7 linked regions of the Homo sapiens genome follow. The protein of the gene in region 2 interacts with the protein of the main gene of each other region in a pairwise test. Each region holds a gene or a part of one and is shown on either strand. Other genes may lie near its edges. The genes, in order: TPM4, NOD2, GOLGB1, TPM3, ALPI, TPM1 and GALNT2.

Evidence for each region.
Region 1: the proteins of NOD2 (region 2) and TPM4 interact in a two-hybrid assay, tested with the Homo sapiens proteins (one large-scale study listed by BioGRID).
Region 3: the proteins of NOD2 (region 2) and GOLGB1 interact in a two-hybrid assay, tested with the Homo sapiens proteins (one large-scale study listed by BioGRID and IntAct).
Region 4: the proteins of NOD2 (region 2) and TPM3 interact in a two-hybrid assay, tested with the Homo sapiens proteins (one large-scale study listed by BioGRID).
Region 5: the proteins of NOD2 (region 2) and ALPI interact in a two-hybrid assay, tested with the Homo sapiens proteins (one large-scale study listed by BioGRID).
Region 6: the proteins of NOD2 (region 2) and TPM1 interact in a two-hybrid assay, tested with the Homo sapiens proteins (one large-scale study listed by BioGRID).
Region 7: the proteins of NOD2 (region 2) and GALNT2 interact in a two-hybrid assay, tested with the Homo sapiens proteins (one study listed by BioGRID and IntAct).

What each region holds. Positions count from the first base shown.
Region 1 is NC_000019.10:16,100,495-16,103,502, reverse strand, and holds the end of TPM4 (tropomyosin alpha-4 chain), read right to left. Parts: intron 2,240-3,008; coding exon 2,157-2,239; 3' UTR 501-2,156; downstream 1-500. UniProt on the Homo sapiens protein: Binds to actin filaments in muscle and non-muscle cells. Plays a central role, in association with the troponin complex, in the calcium dependent regulation of vertebrate striated muscle contraction.
Region 2 is NC_000016.10:50,724,606-50,728,105, reverse strand, and holds part of NOD2 (nucleotide-binding oligomerization domain-containing protein 2), read right to left. Parts: intron 2,618-3,500; coding exon 2,534-2,617; intron 692-2,533; exon of another isoform or gene 1-691. UniProt on the Homo sapiens protein: Pattern recognition receptor (PRR) that detects bacterial peptidoglycan fragments and other danger signals and plays an important role in gastrointestinal immunity.
Region 3 is NC_000003.12:121,690,742-121,694,241, forward strand, and holds part of GOLGB1 (golgin subfamily B member 1), read right to left. Parts: coding exon 3,000-3,500; intron 1,841-2,999; coding exon 1-1,840. UniProt on the Homo sapiens protein: May participate in forming intercisternal cross-bridges of the Golgi complex.
Region 4 is NC_000001.11:154,161,313-154,164,706, forward strand, and holds the end of TPM3 (tropomyosin alpha-3 chain), read right to left. Parts: 3' UTR 501-3,394; downstream 1-500. UniProt on the Homo sapiens protein: Binds to actin filaments in muscle and non-muscle cells. Plays a central role, in association with the troponin complex, in the calcium dependent regulation of vertebrate striated muscle contraction.
Region 5 is NC_000002.12:232,455,024-232,458,952, reverse strand, and holds the start of ALPI (intestinal-type alkaline phosphatase precursor), read right to left. Parts: upstream 2,801-3,929; 5' UTR 2,754-2,800; coding exon 2,687-2,753; intron 2,605-2,686; coding exon 2,488-2,604; intron 2,374-2,487; coding exon 2,258-2,373; intron 2,055-2,257; coding exon 1,880-2,054; intron 1,804-1,879; coding exon 1,631-1,803; intron 1,389-1,630; coding exon 1,254-1,388; intron 1,159-1,253; coding exon 1,086-1,158; intron 956-1,085; coding exon 821-955; intron 737-820; coding exon 545-736; intron 322-544; coding exon 205-321; intron 94-204; coding exon 1-93. UniProt on the Homo sapiens protein: Alkaline phosphatase that can hydrolyze various phosphate compounds.
Region 6 is NC_000015.10:63,059,747-63,063,212, reverse strand, and holds part of TPM1 (tropomyosin alpha-1 chain), read right to left. Parts: intron 2,345-3,466; coding exon 2,274-2,344; intron 2,016-2,273; coding exon of another isoform or gene 1,940-2,015; intron 1,501-1,939; coding exon 1,425-1,500; intron 999-1,424; coding exon 936-998; intron 638-935; coding exon 568-637; coding exon of another isoform or gene 404-567; exon of another isoform or gene 1-403. UniProt on the Homo sapiens protein: Binds to actin filaments in muscle and non-muscle cells. Plays a central role, in association with the troponin complex, in the calcium dependent regulation of vertebrate striated muscle contraction.
Region 7 is NC_000001.11:230,262,738-230,266,237, reverse strand, and holds part of GALNT2 (polypeptide N-acetylgalactosaminyltransferase 2 precursor), read right to left. Parts: intron 3,317-3,500; coding exon 3,233-3,316; intron 998-3,232; coding exon 871-997; intron 1-870. UniProt on the Homo sapiens protein: Catalyzes the initial reaction in O-linked oligosaccharide biosynthesis, the transfer of an N-acetyl-D-galactosamine residue to a serine or threonine residue on the protein receptor.

The sequences.
Region 1 (3,008 bases), on a different chromosome or scaffold from region 2:
GCCAGGCTGGTCCTGAACTCCTGGCCCTAAGCGGTCCGCCAGCCTCGGCCTCCCAAAGTGCTGGGATTACAGGTGTAATTTGGCCACTGTACCTGGCCAAATTTTTGTTATTGTTTGTAGACGGGGTCTCACTATGGTGCCCATGCTGGTCTGCTTTCCTTTGTATGTGTAACTCAGCCTTAGCTAGGCAGATCTTCCTAACTCAGGCAACAGAGATGATTTTCCCTGCTTTTATCTCTTAAAATCCTACTCATTCTTCACAGCCTGGCTTAGGCAGCGTAGGGGATAAGGAAGGCCAGGAGTTTTCGAGTGACCGAGGCTGAGTGCTCTCGCCTGCAATGAGACTGTAATATCCTTGTATCATGAAGTCACAGTATAAAGCAAATAGATAACCTTGTCTACATTCTTGGCTCTGGTTATTTTCCCTTTCCATCCCTTTAACATTTGTTGAACCAAAATGCTCTGTGTACCCCCACACATTCTAAAATTCACGCAAATTGTAGTTTATGTAAAAATTTATTTGACCAAAATGTAGAAAAAGTGATACTATTACATATGATACAGTTGCAAGAATCTAAAGTGTGGATTTTATTCCATTGCACAATTTGCTAGTGTATTTCCTGGGTAGTGTGGTGCTGAATAAATAGGAGTAGGGTGGTGGGGTGGGGTGGGTAAGGGATTCAGATAAGCCAGAAGCAGGGTGATTTTTAGTTGGAATTGTAAACTTTAGTCAGCCCCCACACGCTGCTGGGGAATGTGGAATGTTCTAGCTCTGAGATGTTAACTGAGAAAAGAGAAGTCAAACAAAGCCGATACGTGCAGCCCTGTCTACAGAATCCTTCATTATCCAGTTTAATCAGGAGTTTCTTGGTCTTTTATTAACTTGGTCCCAAAGAAGGAATTCAAGTCCTAGATAAGTAAATCCTCAATTTGCTGTTCCCTGAAGTATGGAAATGAAGTTGGGCCAGTTTTTAATCTCTGCTGCCAGAGAGGCCCTTTCTGCTAATAGATAAAAACTCTTTTGCTCAACTTAGTAATGACTTGTGGTCTTTTGGATATGGCTGACCTGAATTGGACTGAACTCCACCATATTCCTGCTGAGTGGGTCATTACTGGAATGAGACATTTGCTCTTCAGAGAACAACTTTATTTTTATTTTTTCTTGAGATGGAGTCTCACTCTGTCGACCAGGCTGGAGCGCTGTGGTGCGATATCGGCTCACTGCAGTCTCCACTTCCTGGGTTCAAGCGATCCTCCTGCCTCAGCCTCCCGAGTAGCTGGGACTACAGGCAGGCGTCACCATAATTTTTGTATTTTTAGTAGAGACATGGTTTCGCCATGTTGGCTGGGCTGGTCTCGAACTCCTGACCTCAAGTGATCTGTCCTGGCCTCCCAAAGTGTTGGGATTACAGGCGAAAGCCAACGCTCCCGGCCAGGGAACAACTTTAGAATGAAGGAAATATGCAAAAGAACATCACATCAAGGATCAATTAATTACCATCTATTAATTACTATATGTGGGTAATTATGACTATTTCCCAAGCATTCTACGTTGACTGCTTGAGAAGATGTTTGTCCTGCATGGTGGAGAGTGGAGAAGGGCCAGGATTCTTAGGTTGATCTATCTGTGGGTTATGACTTCCCACAATAGCCACCCCCGGCCCCCACCAGTCCTTTTATTGGCTCTGGATGGAAAATCCCTACCCATGTGATGGTCCCTGGTCTCTCCTATAGTTTGACCAACAGTTGACCCAAAAGGTTATGGTCTTCAGCGTTTTAATTATATCCACGACTAGATACTGGGGTCTGTATTCTTCAAAGTGTGGGGCTGCCTATTCTCCCAGGAACCAAATGGCCTCCGTCTTAAGAAAGTATGCTTACTAGGAAATACCCTGCCTACCTTAGGAATAAATGCTACTTAAGGAAAAAATAAGAGAGCTGAAAAAGCTGGTGCCATTTGAAAAAAAAAGGGAAGGAATGAGATTTAACTGGTGCTCAAAGCTTCTCCGATACAAAATATTTGGTCATGTATTCATAATTTGCTTGACATTTCCAGCAAAGCGAAGATGGCAATAACAAAAGGAACTTCTTACAAGAGAAGAGAAAGACCCACGGAGCTCCAGAGTTTCTGTTGGAACAAGACTCTTCTGTTTTGCTTATATACAGTTAAGTTCGTTTAGTGTCTGATCCAGTGTCTGATGTAAGCCCACGTTCTCTTCTTTGGCCTGGGCAAGTTTCTCTGGTGAGGATTAAGAGTATGGGGAAAGATAAATTAATAAGCGTCTTTGTTAAATGAAAGAAAAAAAAAGATTTGTTTTTTTTTCTTCTTCTTGAGACAGGGTCTCATTCTGTCACCCAGGCTGGAGTGCAGTGGCGCGATCTTGGCTCACTGCAACCTTCACCTGCCAGGCTCAAGCAATTCTCCTGCCTCAGCCTCCCGAGTAGCTGGGATTACAGACGCGTGCCACCACCACCCGGCTAATTTTTGTATTTTTAGTAGAGATGGGGTTTCACCATGTTAGCCAGGCTGGTCTCGAGCTCTTGACCTCAAGTGATCCACCCACCTTGGCCTCCTAAAGTGCTGGGATTACAGGTGTGAGCCACCATGCCCAGCACCCCCCCAAAGATTTCTAAACCTGAAACTGCCAGGGTGAAAGTCACAAGAGAGAAAGTACTTTTTTTTTGAGACAGGGTCTCACTCTGTTGTCCAGGCTGAAGTGCAGTGGCGTAATCACGAATCACCGTAGCCTTGACCTCCCTGGGCTCAGGTGATCCTCCCACCTCAGCCTCCCGCATAGCTGGGACTGCAGGTGCATGCCACCACCTGGCCAATTTTTGCATTTTTTCTAGAGACAGGGTCTCACCATGTTACCCAGGCTGGTCTTGAGCTCCTGGGCTCAAGGAACCCATCTGCTCAGCCTCCCAAAGTGCTGGGAATACAGGTGGGTTATAGCCACCATGCCTGTCCAGTACTTTGTATTTTTAATTACAGCAGAACATCACAGAAT
Region 2 (3,500 bases):
GTGCCTCATGAGCTGAGTGAAAACCAAGAAAATCGTCATTTTGAAGTGTCATCTTCTCTTATTCTACACAACAACAGCGAACCATTTCTTGATCTGATTGTGACGTGCGATGAAAAGTGGATTTTATACAACTGGCAATGACTAGCTCAGTGGTTGGACCGAGAAGAAGCTCCAAAGCACTTCCCAAAGGCAAATTCGCACCAAAAAAAAAAGGTCATGGTCACTGGTGGTCTGCTGCTAGTCTGATCCCCTACAGCTTTCTGAATCCCTGCGAAACCATTACATATGAGAAGTATGCTCGGCAAGTCAATGAGATGCACTGAAAACTGCAACACCTGCAGCCGGCATTCGTCAACAGAAAGGGTCCAATTCTCCACGACAACACCCGACTGCATGTCACACAACCAAAGCTTCAAAAGTTGAATGAATTGGACTATGAAGTTTTGCCTCATCCGCCATATTTACCTGACCTCTAGCCAACTGACTACCATTTCTTCAAGAATCTTGACAACTTTCTGCAGGAAAAATGCTTCCACAACCAGGAGGATGCAGAAAATGCTTTCCAAGAGTTTGTTGAATCCCGAAGCATGAATTTTTATGCTACAGGAATAAACAAACTTATTTCTTATTGGCAAAAATGTGTTGATTTTAATGGTTCCTATTTTGATTAATAAAGATGTATTTTAGCCTAGTTATAATAATTTAAAGTTCATGGTCTGAAACCACAATTACTTTTGCTCCAACCTACAACTCACTTTTGTTAGCTACATTCTCTCAGTGAATGCTCATGGCCTATAATGAAGGTCCAGCCATTATCTCCATTTACACTTGAGGCAACTGAGGCACTCATCCAAGAAGAACTGGCTGGTAATGGTGGAGCAGGGGTAAGACCCAGGCTGTCTGGTTCCAGAGCCTGGACTCTTTTTTTTAAATTATTATTTTTCTCATCCTTTTTTTTTTTTTTTTTGAGATGGAAGTTTCTCTCTTGTCCAGTCTAGGGTGCAATGGTGTGATCTTGGCTCATGGCAACCTCCACCTCCCAGGTTCAAGTGATTCTCCTGCCTCAGCTTCCTGAGTAGATGGGATTACAGGTGTATGCCACCACGCCCGGCTAATTTTGTATTTTTAGTAGAGATGGGGTTTCTCCATGTTGGTCAGGCTGGTATGGAACTCCCCACTTCAGGTGATCCACCCGCCTCAGCCTCCCAAAGTGCTGGGATTACAGGTGTGAGCCACTGCACCCAGCAAGCCTGGGCTCTCAACCAACTCTTGGCAGAAACTAAGCCTGGAAAAGAAAGATGTAGGCATTTCTCTTTTTTATAAAAGATATATCAGAAGTTCAATTTTTGTGGGGGATGATATAGTTTAGGATGCTGAAAAATAAGGCTGATGACAGGGTGGCATGGGACCAACCCCAGCCTCATTGCCTGGCATCCATGGGAGTCAAGTGGAGTAAGGCTGTGACAAGGAGGGAAGACAAACCTGCCATATCCACACCTGGTTGATAATGGGCTTGGTATTCCCAAAGGCCGACCCTCAGTGCAAAGCTGGCATCTGGCTCAGACACATCCGGGCTTCACCCCAACTTCCCAGCCCATTTCCACCCAAATAATTAGTGGAAGTGTTTTCTCCAAATATTTGGAAACTTCCTAGCTTGTGAAAGCAACACAAATGAGTGTCGCCAGAGTGGGTAGCAGCCTGGCAGCAAAGCTGGCACTCACAGAGGCAGCTGTCTGTCTGTCTGTCTCTAAAGGCAAGCGTTTTCCTAGGACCACATTTGCCTAGGCAGATGCCACTTTCCTCCAGCAAAAGGAGCCATCTGATGGGGTTCCTGAGGTCTACTTGAAATAAGAATTTTGGCATCAGCCTCAGAGAGCACCCTGACAAACCCATGATGGTCACTAGGTGGGTTCATGTTCACCTGAGCTGTCCATCTCTTTGTGGCACAAGTCCCAAGCCACTGAGTCAGCCACTGGAGGAGGCCACAGTACTCCCCATCACATCACCTCCCCAGCCACTGCTTGCAGAGAAGACCTTCCACTCTCTGCCTGAGGCCATTCTCCTGACCCCAGAAGCATGTTCAGCTGGGTGAGGGTGAGCTGGAAGTGCTGGAGAATCAGTGCCCCATGAGCGCACATCAACATAGGAAGGACAGAGGGTTGGTGGATAAATGCCATGGCTTTCTTGCCCATTGGTTGGGTAGGTGACCATGTGTGTTCTGCACTGGCTCCAGGAGTGCCCCAGAGTACTGAGCTCCAATTTCCCTCATTGATAACTGGCTTGATAACTCCCCTTTATTGGTTACCTTCACTTCCCCATCTCACTTCACCACTCTCCTATCAGCATTTACTGGGACCACCTCCCAGATAAACAACTTGCACTGGAATCCTTGTCCACCTAGACCAAGGCAAGCTGTTCTACCAGGCCACCTCACATGAGTTAGCCCAGCGGAGAGCGGCCCAGATCTTATTCAGAAATGCCCCTTCCAAAGGCCAGCAATTATTGTCCTGTTTCCTGCTTATGGGTTCCTTACTTCAGGATTTTCAAACTTGAATTTTTCTTCAGTCCTTCTGCGAGAGAACATACACCTTCATCCTGGAGATGGTTCTCCTCCAGGCTGGTGAGAAGAAGAGAGAAAATCCAGTTGATACAACATTGATTATGGAAGATGATGAACTCACATGCCCCCCATATAGGAAATCCAACATCTGAAAACCCAAACTCATGGATAAAGAAAGAACAGATAAAGTACGTTGTGGGGATTCTCAATTCCAGGGACATATTTGCAAGAGAATTCACTCCAAGGGCTCTCAATGTAATAAGTTCCCTGATCCCCCAGCTTCCTGATCTCCATCTTTCCTTTCTTCCTTATTAATGGAAGTCTCATTTCATTTGGACAGCCATGCACTTGGTGAAAAAACTGTATTTCCCACTCTCCATTGCAGCCAGGGCTGGTCAAACAACATACAAGTGGGTTGGTCAAGTGACATACACATGGTTGATACATAAGGGGAAGTCGACAGGTGGGGCTTCCAGGAATGCTTTTTAAAGGAGAGAACCCAGATGGCTTTCCTGGGTATATAGATCGAATCCGGGAATACAGAAGTAGTGCTGCACCTGGAGCAGCCATCCTGTGATCATGAGACAACCAACCATGTGAATGAAGTCACAGGCTAAGAATGATGGAACAGGAAGAGAATGAGACAGAGCTGAGACCCCTCCTGGCCTCTTGTAGCCACTGTACAAACCCTACACTGCCTACATCCAGCTGCCTATACAGGAAAAAATAAACCCTTTCCTTGTTTAAACCTCTATAGATGGAGGTATTCTGTCACCTGCAGCTTAACATATAGTTAAACTAAATTTGGCCTGAGACTGCCTCTGTACTTTGAGTTCCTATGTAGCAAACTGCAACCTAACAACATATCCTTATAACAAACAGCTAAGTCTTAGCCAATCACAGCAGCCAGGCTTCAGTCAGTCACAGTCTACCAGCTGAT
Region 3 (3,500 bases), on a different chromosome or scaffold from region 2:
AGGCTGAGCTGCAGACCTCTGCTTCCCTTCCTCTGACTTTCGAAATTTCTCCAGCTCATTCCACAGGTGATCTCTCTCATTCTGCAGACTGGCCATAGCCTTGGAAAAGGACTGCACTTGGTTATAAGAATCTTCTAGTTGTGAGGACAAGTGAAGCAATTGCTCATCTTTGGATAGGAGCTGTTGGTTAAGTTTCTCAAGGTGAGACAAGCTATTCTCCTCAGTGGAGTTCATTGAAAAGGCGGTTTCAGAAAGAAGAGCATCTCTCTCTCTGTTTAAGAGTCCCTGTTCTTTCAACTGTGCCAATTCCTTCAGACTGGCATCATATTTCCTTTTCAGTTCATCAAGTTCCTCATTGGCATGATCTCTACTATTTTGCAAGGAACTCATAGACCTTCCAAAAGACTGAATTTGTGCTGTGAGACCTTTATTTTCTTTGGTGACCATGAGTAATTTCTGTTCCATCTCCACCAAATCTCTTGCTAGCTCTGCCACTCTCTCTTCTGCTGTTTCAGTTTCATTTCTCATTATCCCTGCATCATGATGAAGATGCTTTAATTCTTTCTTCAGTTTATCTTCAATTTCACCTACCTTCTTGGCAGCTTCCTTTTGAACACAAACCAATTCTTCTTCCAGTTCTGCAATTCTCTTTTGAGAGGAGGAAAACAAAGCACTTAACCTGTGTACCTCTTCTTCTTTTACTTTTAACTGGGCATGATAGAGTCCTAAAGTACCTTCTTCTTGCAAGGCTGTTACTTGTCTTGTTAGCTGGGATATAGATACTTTCAAACTCTCAATCTCTTTAGATAAATCTTGTTTCTCTTCTTGTAGGGCATTAAAGGACCTCCGCAGATCCTCATTTGCTTCCTCAGATTCCTTCAGCTTTTCTTCTAATTTAGCATATTTATTTTCCAGCTCCTTATTTTGCTGAAGTTGAACTTCAAGAAGCTGCTTTTGTTGGCTGTCCTTTATTGTTATCACTTGGTTCAGGTCTTCTCTATATTGGATCAGTTCTGCATCTAGCTTGGCATTCTCAGAATTGAGATCATCCATATGACTTCTCAAGCCTCGTATTTCTTCTTTAAGCTTATTATTCTCTGCAGCAGCCTCTTGGATGAGTTGGTCTTTTTCCAAGATTATAGAGAGATGTCGCTCTTCCAGCTGTTGATAGTCACCCACTATGCGGTCTCGATCATTTTGGAGAGAAGACATGGATTTAACAAAGGAATCCAACTGTGCCTTTTGCTGAATGTTTTCCTTTTTGATGGTTTTCAGTGTTTCCATAAGCTGATTGGTTTTATCAACAGCCTTTTTGTTCTCCTCTTCTAAAACAATATTCTCCTCTTCCTCCTGGGACAGCAGGTTTTCCAGCTCTTTAATTTCTTTATCATGTTGCTGACGCAGTTCAGCAATAGCTACTTGGATTGCCTCTTCCTTGCCAGAAAGCAGGCTTATAATCTTTTGCTCTTTCATATTTATTTCTTCATGCAGCCTACTGGTCAGTTCTCTGGAGGCCTGAAGATCAGTCTCCAGTTGTTCATAACTGAACTTAGAATTTTGAATATCAGCCTCTTGCTGCCTTATGATCCCTTCCAAGTTTCCTTTTTGTTCCTTACATTTTTCTAAAGAGTTACTTAAATCAGTCAACTGGTCTTTGAGACTCTTAAGTTCTGATTCCAACTTAGCTAATTCATTCTGAGAACTGTGGTATAGGTGGCGTGTCTCTTCTAGCTGGGACAAAAGTTCTTTGTTTTCCCCCTGTAGAGTATCACAGACCTTCTGCTGAAGCTGGACCTCTGTCTGGGCCTTGGACTCCCAAATCTGCTTGTCATGTTCAAGCCTGAAACAGAGAGAAGGTCATTAGTTACAGATTTCAAGAAAAAAACTGTGTTTCCCAAGGAACAAATACTATAACATGTACTCAATAGATTTACAAATGAATTAACATTCATAACAGGTGTTAAATATTTTACTGAAGAGGTATTAATTCTCTGCACCTACATGTTTATCTACTGAGTGCTATGTATTAAAGGTATATCATACTTAAGGGTTCATATATTTAAGTCATAAACTCCAAAATATGTCACTTATTTTAGTGACATGGTTTTCAACACTGAAAAGTAACATTTTCTCCTATTTTATTCTACTTTGCTCCAGACAAGCTAACGTTTGGCTTCTCTAAGGGATAATCTTGATATGAAAGACAGTGAGAAAATCTGTTTTAGAACAGAAGGGTCCTATTGGAAGTAAGGAATACAAAGGATGAGAGACATTATTAGTTCTATAGATTAAAAAGTGACAGAAAATTGAAATTTGAGAAAAAATAACTCTAAGAGGTATATGCAGTATGAATTAATGTGGACTAAAGGAAGAAGAAAAGACGAGACTAGACAATTAATTTGAGAGTACTGTGGTAAAAATCCAGGCAAGAGTAGTTGAAATGGAAATGAAAAGAAATACAGAGGCCAGGTGCAATGGCTCATGCCTGTAATCCCAGCACTTTGGGAGGCCGAGGTGGGTGGATCACCTGAGGTCAGGAGTTCGAGACCAGCCTGGCCAACATGGTGAAACCCCCTCTCTACTAAAAATACAAAAAATTAGCTGGGCGTGTTGGTAGGCTCCTGTAATCCCAGCTACTCGGGAGGCTGAGGCAGGAGAATTGCTTGAACCCAGGAGGCAGAGGTTGCAGTGAGCCAAAATCGTGCCATTGCATTCCAGCCTGGGTGACAAGAGCAAGACTCCATCTTAAACAAAACAAAACAGAAGTACAGAAATCTCTCAATAGAAAGATGGGAAGAGAAGATGCGAACTTTTCATGTTCATGCAGTTGTAGCAGGATTGTTGTTTGCCAAAAAAAAGTCAGAAGTGAGAGAGAATATATCTTCCATGGACATTTATGCCAAAATTAGTCCCATTGTCTAAAAGGAAACAGAAATAGTTTAGAGACTTTCTTTGCTTGAAGTTACCTCTGGAGGAGGAAAAATTCACTACTCATTTACCTGGAAATGTTAATCTTTAATTCTTCCATATGGATGGACATCTGTCTAAGTTGATCCTTTAGAACACTGCAATTATCTTCTTTGAGTCTAATTTCTTCTTCTTTGCTTTGAATCGCATCACTAAACTTCCTCTCCCATTTCTTAGCTTCATCTATCACCCTGTCACGATCATCCTGGAGGGAAGACATGCTCTTAGTAAAGGCTGCAAGCTGGGTCACAGTACTGTCCAAGTTTTCCTGAAGTTGCTGAACTTCCTTGTCTTTCTTGTTCAAAGTAACCTGAATCTCTCCAATTGTCTCTTCCAAGTGGACTTTTTCTCTGCGCAAAGCATCCAGTTTCTCTTGCATATTCTTCTTCTCTTTCAGGTGCTTCTCTTCTGCCTGTTCCAGTCTTCGCTCAAGATCTTCATCCTTTTGTTTCATCTGGCTTTTAACTGATTCTTTATTTGACTGAAGTTCCTTTTTCAACTTGAGATTGTCTGCTAGGACCCTTGCTGCTTCA
Region 4 (3,394 bases), on a different chromosome or scaffold from region 2:
CTCTCAAATTTCCTGTGATGTTACATTACATATAGATCTCGTGAACAGCCTGAATTTAGATAATACCTATAACCAAGTTAGTTTGTGTGATTCTCACTTGGGAAAGAAGGATGTTATCAGGATCCTTTTTTTTTTTTTTTTTTTTTGAGTTTCACTCTTGTTGCCCAGGTTGGAGTGCAATGGTACGATTTTGGTTCACTGCAACCTCCACCTCCCAGGTTCAAGCGATTCTCTCGCCTCAGCCTCCTGAGTAGCTGGGATTACAGGCACCCACCACCACGCCCAGGTAATTTTTGCATTTTTTTTTTTTAGTAGAGATGGGGTTTCACCATATTGGCCAGGCTGGTCTTGAACTCCTGACCTCAGGTGATCTGCCCGCCTCCCAAAGTGCTGGGATTACAGGCATGAGCCACCGCACCCAGCCGCGTTATCAGGATCTTTATCCCTCAAAGCAGCCTGGTCAATTCTTTTCCATTTAGGGAAGAAATAAAGAGACAGAGAAGGAGTGAGAGCATTTTATTGCCTGACTAAATCACAGAACACAGAGTTTCCTAGGAATTGCATGAGGTCAGAAAGACAAATGCAGCTGTTCTCTCACTTTGAACTTAGTTTCTAACTCTGCTATCTCTAGTTATTAAAAATTAAGACCAGTACTAGCTCCTTAAAGTTTTTGGTTCCCTGATAATAGCTAAAACAAAACAAACGAAAAGGCAAGGCAGAGAACCTATTTGGTCTAGCGTTCTTTTCAGCTATATCTAATTAAGAAACAACCCCATGGCCAGGTGCAGTGGCTCAAGTCTGTAACCCCAGCACTTTGGAAGGCCGAGGCGGGCAGATCACGAGGTCAGGAGTTTGAGATCAGCCTAACATGTTGAAACCTAGTCTCTACTAAAAACACAAAAATTAGCCGGGCTTGGTTGCACGTGCCTGTAATCCCAGCTATTCAGGAGGCTGAGGCAGGAGGATCACTTAAACCCAGGAGGCGGAGCTTGCAGTGAGCCAAGATCACACCACCGCACTCCAGCCTGGGCAACAGAGCAAGACTCCGTCTCAAAAAAAAAAAAAAAAAAAAACACAAACCAACCCCATGGAGTTGGATAGTATTCAACCAACACCATGTGAAAGGAAGAGATTTGGTTGGGGCTAAGATAAAGCTGCCAAACAGAATAGGTCTAAGATAAAGCTGCCAAACAGAATAGGTCAGTTGTACCTATCAGATAACTTGGGGTTACTACATCTTATTCCTTATCTCAATGATGGTAACAAGGAAGGGCAAAATGGGCCTGTGGTTCTTAGAAATTAAGAGGGGGTAACATTAAGGGGACAAATGTTTTACTCTGATGCTTGACTTCACCCCAATACTAGTCCAGGCTCAAGTAACACAGGATGGCTTCTGCAAGGATATTAAGCCTTAAACAAAGGAATGAATTTAGCATTAGCACTAATTACATAGTACTTCATTGTCCACTTTGGTACCCCAGTTTGTTGGTCTCTATCCTTGGCTCACACTAGTCATACCGCAAGGAAAACAGGAGATACCACAGATCAGAGCTATAACACCTTACTTTTCTCCCAATCTCCCTCTTATTTCCTTCTTTTTTTTCTCTCCTGCCTCAGCCTCTCGAGTAGTTGGGACTACAGGCATGTGCCACCATGTCCAGCTAATTTTTGTATTTTTAGTAGAGACAGGTTTTCACCACGTTGGCCAGGATGGTCTTGATCTCTTGACCTTGTGATCCACCTGCCTCGGCTTCCCAAAGTGTTGGGATTACAGGCATGAGCCACCATGCCCGGTCTACTTCCTTCCTTTCTAAGAAGTCTTTCTTCATGTCAAAGCCAACTTCTGCCCAGGATCTGAATATTTAGAAATGCATTGTCCAATATAATAGCCACTAGCCACAGGTAGCCAAATTTAAATGAACTACAATGAAATACAATTAAATTTTAGCCCCTCAGCCACACTAGCCATGTTTTGAGTGCTTGACTGCCACATGTGGCTAATGTACTAGACATCATTACCAAAAGTTCTGTTGGAAAGCCCTGCTCTAAAGTAAATTATATTGCCTATATAATCTTCCTACCAATACACTCTTTTGCCCCTGAAAATGACTCCTCCTCTTCACTTCTTAACACTCAAAATGTACCCTCAAATTACTAAAGTATCAATGCATGTCCCATTTTCAGTTATCTTCCTTCTTAGCCTCTCTGTTGAAAAACCACTAGAAAGCATCCAACCCGGAACTTTTTAAAGAACTACTCAACCGTCTTCTTTCCCTCCAATCAGTTCCATTTGGTTCCTCCTCTTACATAACGTTTTCCTCATTGTTTAATTTTTTTTTGAGACAGAGTCTTGCTCTGTCACCCAGGCTGGAATGCCGTGGCACAATCTCAGCTCACTACAAGCTCCGCCTCCCGGGTTCACGCCATTCTCCTGCCTCAGCCTCCCAAGTAGTTGGGACTACAGGTGCCCGCAACCACGCCCAGCTAATTTTTTGTATTTTTAGTAGAGACGGGGTTTCAACGTGTCAGCCAGGATGGTCTTGATCTCCTGACCTCGTGATCCGCCCACCTCGGCCTCCCAAAGTGCTGGGATTACAGGCGTGAGCCACCGTGCCTGGCCTCTTTTTTTTGTATTTGCAATTGTCCTTCATGGTTCTAATTTACCTCCATGGCATAAACTACCTGTACCCCATATGGATTCCCAACTCTCTTATGTCAACCTCTCTGCCTCACGCCCTAGAATTTTGTTTTCACCCAGATACCTGCCAGATTGTCAGCCGTATCTTCTTTCCCTTCCCCCAGCTCCCCAAACCAGGACAACATGATCTCCCTACATCTTTAACCCCACCACTTTCCTACTCTTTTTTTGGGGGGGGTCTCATTCTGCCACCCAGGATGGAGTGCAGCAGTGTGATCACAGCTTGCTGCAGCCTCAGACTCCTGGGCTCAAAGGATCCTCTGGCTTCGGCCCTCCAAGTAGATAGGACTGCAGGCACGCACCACCATGTTTGGCTAAGTTTTTATATTTTGTAGAGACAGGTTCTCACTTTATTGCCAGGCTGGTCTCGAACTCCTGGATTCAAGAAATCCTCTCACCTCAGCCTCCTAAAGTGCAGGGATTACAGGCATGAGCCACTGCACCCGGCTAATTCTCCTACTCTAAAAACCAGTCATCCTTGTCTTTCCTCCTCACATCAAGTGGCCAGGCCTTTCACAATGCCTGTCTTTATTTAGTGCTATCTCTCCTGCCACTACTCTAGCTCAGACCCTGATTATTCTCTCCTAGAAAACTAAATTAACCTAACCCAATTTTTTCCAAAGTGTGGTGTATTCACTGCTATAGTTACTTTAATGTGATTAGGAAAAAACACTAACACATCAAAACTTTGATTTC
Region 5 (3,929 bases), on a different chromosome or scaffold from region 2:
CCTGCGGGCCGCGCGCAAACACCGCCACGTCTTCGCCTCCGTGGGTCTCGGACGACAGGGGCACCGCCGCCTGCTGCTGGTAATCGGGGCTCCCTGGTAGGAGGGTGAGTGCACTTCAGGGCAGGCAGGCGGCGTCCCCCTCCCGCGAATGCCCCCATCCCTGGCACCCTGGTCCCCCTGCACGGGCCATTCAGCCTCACTCACCGCTCTCGCTCTCATTCACGTCTGGTCGCACGCCTGAGTTGAACACGTAGCCCGGGCCATTGCCGTACAGGATGGACGTGTAGGCTTTGCTGTCCTGAGCCTTGCTGGGGGCCAACCCTGTAGGGAGATGCGGGTCCCTGTAGTTGAGCTGACCACAGCTGTGGGAGTGCCTCCTATGTGCCAGGCACCGCCACTTTTTGCCTGTTCGGGGGCTCGGTCCTCACAAGATCCCTATAGGGCTGGTGCCAGCATTGCACACTTTTGACAGAGGAGGAAACTGAAGCTCAAACTTCACCCTCATAATTGATGCAGCAGCACCTGCCACTCTCCCCAGGCCTACCGAAGATGGAGCTCCCTCGCAAGGTGTAGCCACCAAAGGAGAAGACATGGGAGTGGTCAGCGGTGACGAGGGTCAGCGTGTCCTCCTCGCTGGTGAGCTGGCCCGCCCTCTCAATGGCGTCGTCGAACATGACCGCCTCAGTGAGTGCCTGGTAAGCCACACCCTCATGATGACCATGGTCGATGCGGCCGCCTGCAGGAAGGCCAGAGGGGGGTGATGCTTGAACCTGCCCTGCCGCGCCCCGCCTTCCTCCACTCCCCAGGGGCCACCACGCACCCTCCACAAAGAGGTAGAAGCCGCGGGGGTTCCTGCTCAGCAGGCGCAGGGCAGCCTCTGTCATCTCCATCAGGGAGGGGTCCAGTGTGGGGTCTCGGTGGATCTCATATTTCGTGTCTCCGGGCTCAAAGAGGCCTGTGGGACAAGGAGCTTGGTGGTGATTGGCAGGCTGTGAGCGGGAGGGTGCTGGCAAATGGGCACACAGGCTCGGATGGCACCCTCTGAGGTTGTCTGAGGAATGCCAGGGCAGGAAGGGGGTCATTACCCATGAGATGGGTCACAGACTGGTCCAGGGACGCCTGCATGAGCTCAGTGCGGTTCCACACATACCAGGCACCCTGCAGGGACAGAGCCAGGCTTCAGCCCACAGCCCTGAGACCCACACACTTGGCCTCCCCCTGCCGTGCCTCCCACACCCACCAGCCCCCATCACCTGGTGCTTTGCCAGCCATTCCTGCACCAGGTTCTTCCCGTCCAGCCTGATTCCATTCTGGCTGGCATCAGCTGGGTACTCAGGGTCTGGGGTCCCCATGGGAAACATGTACTTGCGGCCTCCGCCAAGGATCACCTGAGGACAATGGATGGGGCAGGTGGTTTGGGGGCCTGGCTGGCCCCGTGCCCCCTCCTCATGCATAGCCCCTGGCTCCCCTCCCCAGGGCTGTGGGAATGGCCCAGCCTGTATTGCACATTCTACATCCCCAACTCCACCTCCAGAACCTGCTGACCCAGATCAGGCTTTTGGTTGCCTGGATCTGAGCCTGTGCCACCTTCCCCTCTGCCCAGCCCCAGCCCTTGGCCCGGGGGTCGCACGTCAATGTCCATGTTGGAGATGAGCTGAGTGGCGATGTCCTGGCACCCCTCCTGGCGGGCTGAGGCAGGCATGTCAGCATCTGAGTACCAGTTGCGGTTCACTGTGTGTGCGTAGGTGCCGGCTGGCGAGGCGTGCTGCACCCGTGTGGTGGTCACCACTCCTACTGACTTTCCTGAGGGTGACAGAGGTCAGGATCGGTGACCGAGATCTTGGGCCTGGTCCTGACCCCACAGCGGGCCCCAGCTCACCTGCTTGCTTGGCCCGGTTCATCACGGAGATGACCTCATTGCCGCGTGTCGTGTTGCACTGGTTAAAGCGGGCGGCTGCACTCAAGCCGATGGTCTGGAAGTTGGCCTTGACCCCGCACAGGTAGGCCGTGGCTGTGGCTGCGCTGTCTGGCACCTGTCTGTCCACATTGTATGTCTGCGAACGGAGACACCCTGAGCTCTACTTCGGGGCGGACACCCAGACCCCAACCAAGGACCTGGTTCTGGTCCTCTGGGATCCTAACTGCTCCCAGCTCCTAACTTAGGCCCCAGCTGTCCTGGCTCCCTCCCTCCTGCCACACTCCATATCCTTGATCCCTCTCCTCTGCTTGGAGGACTCTGAGGTGGCCCAGCCCTTACCTTGGACAGAGCCAGGTATGGGAAGCGGTCCATGGCCAGGGGCGTCTCAGGCCCCAGTTTGCCATTCTTCTGCCCCTTTAGGATCCTGGTGGCTGTCACCGTGGGCACCCCCAACCCTGAAGGAGCAGAAATGTGTGAGTCCTGGGCCCCAGGGTTGTCCTGGAACCACTGAAGGTCCCGGGTGCCGGGGCTGTGAGGACTACGGGGCTGGACAGGCCTTGCTCACTCACCATCGCCCAGGAAGAGGATGAGGTTCTTGGCGACCTTCTGGATGGGCTGCAGCTTCTTGGCAGCATCCAGGGCCTCAGCTGCCTGGCGGTTCCAGAAGGCCGGGTTCTCCTCCTCAGCTGGCCAGGGGGAGAGTAGAGATCAGGTCAGCCTGGCTGAGGGGGTGCCCTGTGTGTGGAACAGCTTGGGGAGCCTCATTACCTGGGATGACGCCCAGGGAGAGCTGTAGCCTCAGGCCCAGCAGCAGCAGCACCCAGGGCCCCTGCATGTCTTGGGGGCAGCAGGAGGGAGGCGAAGTGGGGACACCAGGAACCGGCTGCAGCGCAGGCTGCCTGGGTTTAAATCAGGGGAGGACTTTGCCCCTGGCTGTAAATGCTCCACGTCCCTCCCCACACCCCTGGTGTCCATCTTGACCCCGCCCAGTCCTGTGACCTGAAGCCAAGCTTGCTGAAGGGAAGGGACTGGGTGTGGCTCACAGTGTCTTGTGGGAGACGCGTTGCCACTCCTTCATTCACCTCATTCAAGGTGTGAAGAGAGGTGAGACTGGAAACACACAGCCTAGGCCAGGGCCCGGGTTAGGGCTCGTAATGTCACGAGCCCCAGAGGAGTGTGAAAGGAGGCACACTGGGTGGCCTGGCTGCCCTAGAACCCACTTGGTGTATATGGGTGCCCACACCTATGTCCTGAGGACGCAGGCTGGGAAGGGGCCAGTGCTCTGGGTCAGCCAGACCTGGGCTGGGTCTTCCAGAGCAGCCTGTGCACTTGAGGTTGACCCCTGTTCCCTTGCACAGGTAGATGGAGCCTGGGGTGAGTCTGTTTTCCATGGGCCCCGGGGAACACCCAGAAGTGTAGCCTCTGATAAGGAGTTCAGAGAGTTTGGTAACCTCAGGCTGAGTTCAAAAGTATTGCTTCAGTCCAGACATCCCACTCTGAGTGTGTAGCCAAAGGAATGCGAACTAGGGACTCGAACAGATAACTGCACACCCATGTTCCCAGCAGCATTATCCACAGCAGCCAAGAGCTGGAAGCTACCCAAGTGTCCAGCAAAAGAGAAATGGAGAAACCAAACAGGGTGCACACATACAATGGAGTATCACGCAGCCTTGAAAACAAAGGCGACCCTGACACCTGCTACAACATGGATGAACCTTAGGACATTATGCTCAGTGAAATATACCAGTGCAAAAGAACAAATACGCACGAACACACTTCTCTGAGGTCCCGAGGGGAGTCAAATACATAGAGACAGAAGTGGAATGGAGGTTGCCTGAGGCTGAGGGAGGAGGCAATGGGTTAGGGTTGGGGTTAGGGTTAGAGTTGGAGTTTAATAGGGACAGAGCTTCAAGGTTGCAGGATGAGAATGTTCTGGAGATCAGCTGCACAACACTGTGCGTGTACTCAACACTGCCGCCCTGTACACTTGAAAATGGTGAAGGAGGTAAAC
Region 6 (3,466 bases), on a different chromosome or scaffold from region 2:
TTTAGGATATCTGTGAGATAGAGTGGTTATTACTAAAATAAAACCTAAGTGCCTTAGGGAAGAAATGCTTAAGTATAATTTTTCCCTCCTCCTTCAGGATATAAAGTATTTTGTTAAGATAATATATGACTTAAAATAACCCCTAAATCCTTACTTTGAATTCATACTTGGAAGAAGATGGGTTCTTCTAAAAACAAGACCACAATCACCACATCATTCCCAATTTAATTAGGAAGTAACACTAAAGATATAAAATATACTAGAGTCATTCTCACCAATAAGCACCTCACTCACAGTGAAAAATAAACCTGCCACACTTGTAATGAGCATGAAGTCAAGCTGGATGGCATTTGCCACTATGGCTGGTGGCTAACTAGTCACCTCGTGAGCAGAAGACTTAGGTTCATGAGTTCAAGAGCCACAGAGAAAAACCCCAGAGGACACACAGGAAGAATGTGCAAGTGCAAAGGAGCGTATCAATGTGGATGCCCTTGAATTGGAAAATTGTTTTGCCAGGTTGGTATTCAACCATAAGGATTAAACTAAAAACACTACTTAAGATCTTACCTTCTAAGTCATCAATGCTTTTCTCCAATTTAGTTACTGACCTCTCCGCAAACTCAGCCCGAGTCTCAGCCTGTAATGATTTATTTGAGTTAAAGTTGGGAAGTTTTATGTTTCCTGTAGCTACAAACATAGGGAAAACTAGAGGATGAAAATGAAGCACATCACCTATAAAATGGATCAGAAACTACTTGTCAGTTTCAGTCACCTCTGTGAGAAATGGCAGTTAGCACAGTACATAAACTCCAAGGCGACCTTTGAATATTCCTGACTTGGATCATTGGAACTTTAAAATGAAAAGGCCCTGACCGGTTCCATGAAAACAAACTCATTTAAAATCCAGTTGGCTTCATCCACAACTCTCATATTACCTCCTTCAGCTTGTCGGAAAGGACCTTGATCTCTTCCTCATATCTGTCTTCCTTCTGCGAGTACTGTAATTAGAAAGAGCATTCCAGATGTCAGGCTGCAGCTCAATCTACTCATGGCTTCTCATGCAAAGAACTCGCCAGCTCAGCCAACAGATGTTAAGGATCTCTTAGGAGGTAATGGAACCTCTGATATCAAATGGCACACTGCAATACATTCTCTGCTTTCTTGCCTATTGTTTTACATGGGATAACAACAAGATAACTTATCCACTTGGCACTTGGTTTAAATTAAATTGATGCCTCATATCCCTAACATAAAATAAATTCTCTAGTTAAAAAAAAGAATTTGTTATCTAGTAACTCTCCAAAAATCACCTCACAATATTGCCATTTTACTAAAATGTCTACTGTAAGTGTTGCTTTCTGGCAGGGCCTCTTTTGAGCAGCTCTTAAAAGATGCCTTTCCCCCACACCATCCTCCTGGCCTACCTTCTCAGCCTGAGCCTCCAGTGACTTCAAGTTGTTCGTCACAGTTTTCAATTCTTCTTCAAGCTCGGCACATTTGCTAATGTTTTCGATCAGAGGCAGAAAGGGTGGGAGACAAGCCAAAGGAAGGAGGAGAGAAAAAGGAGAGGGATGGGAAAAAATGAAAACTGAGTCCTAGAGACGAAGGGCTGCCTTAAAGTAGCCAAATCATCAGGTATTAAAATGTTTAGGTTTTCCAGGAACACTGCCCCCCAACCTCGCAACAGCAGAAGGCAGGGTGACCAAATCCAACAACTTTGAAGTGCGATAATTTGGCTCCTTTTTTGGCTGCCCAAAGAGCATTTATGAAGGGAAAACAAAGGAGCATAAAGGACCAAGGGAAAGCACTTAAGGCAAGATATAAATAGCAGAGGGTGAAGTGAAGGTGCAGTCGTTATACCAAACGAACCAGGAGGCATTGGAAGCTGAAAGATGTCTGGGTTGCAGTTAAACCTAAAAACCACACGAGCCATCAGTACCTTATCCTCTGCAGCCATTAATGCTTTCAAGGTCTGATCCATTATTCTTAATTGTTCTTCCAGCTGTCGGACTTGGCTGTTAGTGGACACAGGAAATGCACAAGGCCATTCACAAAATCAGTGTGCAGGTAAGGCATGCAGTGATACACGCATTCATACATAAGACACCCCACACGAGTCCTCCATGTTCCATACTCGTGGCTCATCCACATCAAATGAGCACAAAAGGAGCCCGGAGCTGAAACAGGTAATGTGCAGCTGCCAGAAGGTCATGCTGTTTAGTCACTGCTCTGCAGCACCCCATTCGTGGCCTCCTGGCGCCGGGCCCGCTTACCCTTCTGAGAGCTCAGCCCGCTCCTCTGCACGTTCCAGGTCGCTCTCAATGATGACCAGCTTACGGGCCACCTGCAGCAGGAAGACACAACACACACACCATGGGTCTTGCAAGCTTTGTGTAACAGAAGGGCATGGGGGTAGAGATCAGATCCCATCAGGCCCTAAGGGTTTTGTCTACAAACAATATGATCCTCTTTCTGGTAGACCAGAGAGAAGCAACTCTCTATTAGGAGTGCCAGCAGAGAGGAGATCAGAGGCTTCTGCTTTGACTCAGAATGGTTAGCTGTGATTGGGCAGTCTCAATTGGAAGTCTGACCTAGGTGAACCGGCAGCCAGACCAAAATGTGGAAGGAGGGATAAAATACACATTCACAATCTCAAAAACAGCAGTAGGATGAGACATGTACTAAAAAGGTGGGGGCTGCCAGGAAAACAAAGTAAACCTAAGAACTCCATCAATTTGATGGCTGATCTGTGCATCTACCTCCTTACTGCAGTGGAAGAATACAAGAGACACTAACGTGAGACAAGTTGGTGAGATAACTGACAAAATCAAATTTGTATTTAGTGGAAGAACCAGAGAGAGGAAGGGAGCCTCTGAAGCAGATCAAAACTTGTGAGCATAGTGTAATCTGAAGGTAATAATGGTAATAAAAAGGAGGGGCAATGCTGTTTCAGGATAGCCACGATGTGATCCAATAAGGAAAAAACAGAAACCTTAATAATCAAGTTGCCTCTTATCACAGGAGGCTGTTTTCATGGGGACACGACCAGGAGCAAATTCTGCTGAAAACCTGCGTTGATAATAGTTTTCTACCACCCTTGAGGAGAGAGGCCTCTGTGAATCCACTGAGAAACTGTCTGTGGTCTCTAAGCTGCCCAATCTGGATGTGCCAGGTCACTCTGGGAAGAAATGACTTGCACCATGACAGCATGAGAGCCTCCTTTCACAAGACACAGGGCCCAACTCTCCCTTCCGGCCAAAGATCTTTTGTCCGGGTCTTTGTGGCTGGGGGAGAGGAGTTTTGGTCCTTCTTCGCAGTGCTACTGATTGGCTTCCTGATAAAGCCTGGGATCCCCTAGCAGGATTAAAATTAGAACCGTTTTCTGGACACAAAGGAACTCTGCTTCTCAAAACCACCCATTTCTGCCAACAAAGCAGATGGCCTCACTCGGGAATCAAGACTGTAC
Region 7 (3,500 bases), on a different chromosome or scaffold from region 2:
AGAAGGTAGTGGGTTTTTCTGTTTGTTTGTTTGTTTGTTTTTTGAGACAGAGCTTTGCTCTTGTAGCCTGGGCTGGAATGCAATGGTGTGATCTCAGCTCACAGCAACCTCTGCCTCCCGGGTTCAGGCAATTCTCCTGCCTCAGCCTCTCGGGTAGCTGGGATTACAGGTGCCCGCCACCACGCTTGGCTAATTTTTTTTTTATTTTTAGCAGAGATGGGTTTCACCATGTCGGCCAGGCTGGTCTTGAACTCCTGACCTTAGGTGATCCACCCACCACAGCCTCCCAAAGTGTTGGGATTACAGGCGTGCGCCACGGCGCCTGGCGGTTGTGCATTTTTATGCCTCTCAGAAAAGGTGTGTATGTGTGCAATGGAAGCAATTAATACTGAGTATCTTCTATCTTAAGCTATTATCTAACAGGCAGGGGCTATAACTAGCAGCCGCCTTAGTGCCCACAGTTAAGAATCTGTTGTATAGGCATACCAGGCAGGAGGTGTAGACATCATATTCTGGGGCCAGACGCAGAGGCAGAATGGGTGCTTTGCGGTTGAGTGCACATGGCCGAGAGGACAGAGCTGGCAGGAAGACCAGGGCCCTGCAACCAGCAACTGTGACCAGTGCACCCTTGCCGCTGCAGCAGAGCCTGGTCCGAAGCTGATGACAGAGCTGATGCACCAAAGTGTGTGACATTCTATCTGGCCCTGGTGCTGGCTGCCAAAGAGGCTGTGGCCAGCAGGAGCCAGGTGCTTCCTCATAGACATCACCCATCCCAGGAGAAAGGTGGCAGCTGGGACTTCTAACATCAGGACCCCCCCAACTCCTGCTCTCTCTGGGCCTGCAGGTGACCTGGCTTCCCCATGCACATACCTGGTTTCCCCCAGCATTGTGACATTCATAAACTCCAACCACACCATCAGCAAAGTGTCCCAAAGTGTCGAGGCAGTTAGTTCCCTGCTGCAAGGCCCCAAAAGCTATATCCTGATGGTCTGGAACCCTGAAAAACAACGTGAGAATCACCTGCTTCACTGCACATGACCACCAGCTCCCGTCCACCAGCCCCTTTGCTCAGTGGCCTCATGACAGGTGACAGGAACGAGAGAAAGACCCAGTGACTAGGCATCGTGCCTCTTCCTACCACAGGTAGTGTGTGTCAGGGACACGGCATTTCTCCCAGGCTCTGGACTTCCAACACTTTAAGACTGTATGTTGCAGAAGTATTCTTTATATTCTATATCAGGTCATTTTTTTTTTTTTTTTTTTTTGGAAAGGAAGGAAAAGCTCCTGATACTCTTCAATGTTAGTCTTATTGGAAGTCATTTAGAAAATCAATGTGGTCAGATCCTGTTGCCTTGAACTTTCCAATACACTTAGGATCTGACCTTTATCCAGTAAAGACGGGAAAGGTGGGCAGACTTGTCAGGTGGTCTAATGTGAACAAAGCCACAGCCACGGGGAAGAACAACGTGCTTCAGAACCAGATCCAAACCTCAGCCCACCTCTGCCAGGTGCTGGCTTTCAGGCAAGACTCACTTTCTCTGAAGCTCGATTTGCCCTTTGGTAGGCTATGGGCTACCCAGATCTGCTGCAAGTGTTACATAGAACATTTCGTGTAAAGCACACGGCCCAGTGCCTGGCTCGTAGGAGGCACTCAGTAAACGGCGGTGATATTACAGACACAAAACACGAGGCTGATGTCTCCCTCACCCCCCACAGACAGGGGAAGCAGATTTGCCAGCCAGGATGGTGCTCAGTGCCTCAGATGTGGTCTTCAGTGGGTGCGGGGCCCAGTGTCACTACAAACCATGGGTGACCTCTGTGAGAAATGGCAGTCAACTGTGACTGAAAAAGCAAAGTGAGTGGCATGGTTGGGTTAAAATCCACTGAATTGAAGCCCCTCTTTGGCTGACGGAGAGTTGATGAGCAGCCGCCTTAGTGCCCACAGTCAAGAATCTGTTGTATAGGGACACCAGGCAGGAGGTGTAGACATCATATTCTGGGGCCAGACACAGAGGCAGAATGGGTTCTTTTGGGTTGAGTGCACATGGCCGAGAGGACAGAGCTGGCAGGAAGAAGACCAGGGCCCTGCAACCAGCAACTGTGACCAGTGCACCCTTGCCGCTGCAGGTGACCATCGCTGGTGACCATCTGGTGCTCTCAATCCCCAGCAAAAGCTGTCCTGCACGGCAGGGATCCGAGGGAGAAGGACGCTGTGTTCTCTCCTGTTCTCCTCCTAGGGGGCATGGGCCACCTGGCGCCTGGCATGTTACTTGAAAAGCAGAGGAAACGGTTCCAAAGAGCCAAGTGAGCGAACAGGAGCAACAGAGAGAGGCCGCATTACCTAACTGTCCAACAAATCTCCGTGACAAGGGCTCTGAAGGAGCTGTTAGCGGAAAGATAATGGTGGCAAGTCTTGCGTTCGCAGGCACTGTGCTGGAGATATGTGAGCCGCTGTAAAATGCTCTGGGAATATTTAGAATAAGGAATGTGCCGCATTAAGGCACGACCTGCCTGACAGTCCCTTTAAGAAGATGAAGTGCAGATGGCTCCTCCACCCCAGCGGATCTATAGGTCTTCTCACGAGGTTATCAGCAGGTCCCTCCAGATGGGGAGCTCGTATTCGCTTAAAACAAGAGGCTGGGTGTGGAAATAATGCTCAGAAAGGTGTTTCTGCCATGAATCCTCCGGAGGGACGTGGGGCAGCAGCATTATTACTTCCGTTTCACATGTGATTAACCTAGCTGGGAGGAGGGAGCCTCGTGGGGGCTGTTATCTGCTGGCCCACAGGAGCAGCAAGGGTGAGCGCAGCAGATCGGAGGCATGCAAAGGCGCCTGGCGGGGGGATCGAGGGCTGGCTGCAGACACTGCATGCTTGCGGAGGCTGGGGACTGCTCCTGGTCACTCGAAGAGCCTGTCAGACACCAGTCCTTCAGGTCACCCAGCCCATCACCTTGCCAATGGAGAACAAGCCAAAAACAAGGTGAGGCCCGGGGGACTGCCTCTGGGACTCCGAAGCATGGGAGGGCAGCTCTGCAGGACAGAGACAGCAGCAGGCCAACTTGGGAGCAGATTCTCAGCTCCACACCATGGAGTGAGACCACAGGCTCTCACTGGGGCCCAGGTGCCCAATCTCATGCCTGCAGCCCCACCTCCATTTCCCCTCTGCTGCTTCTATGGCCTTACTGGCTTCTAAGCCCTTACAAAGTGAAACCCCAGATCCCTGGGGACTTACCTTAACTCTGGATAGACATTTTCAAGGTACCATTTGAAAGGCTTGCAGCTGAGTTTCTTCCTAAGCTCCAATCTGCTCTGAATACTGGAGAAGAGGGAAATAAGATTCCTTTATAAATTTTAAGAATAGATGGGCTTTCTACATCAAACTTGAAAATCTGCTGAGGAGAACAGGGTTGGGGCAGGTGGTGTGGTGTGGACTGCCCATGCTCCTGTGCCCACAACCCCTTCCCGCCTTGGCACCTGGGTAGCTGAATTCAACGCTGGGG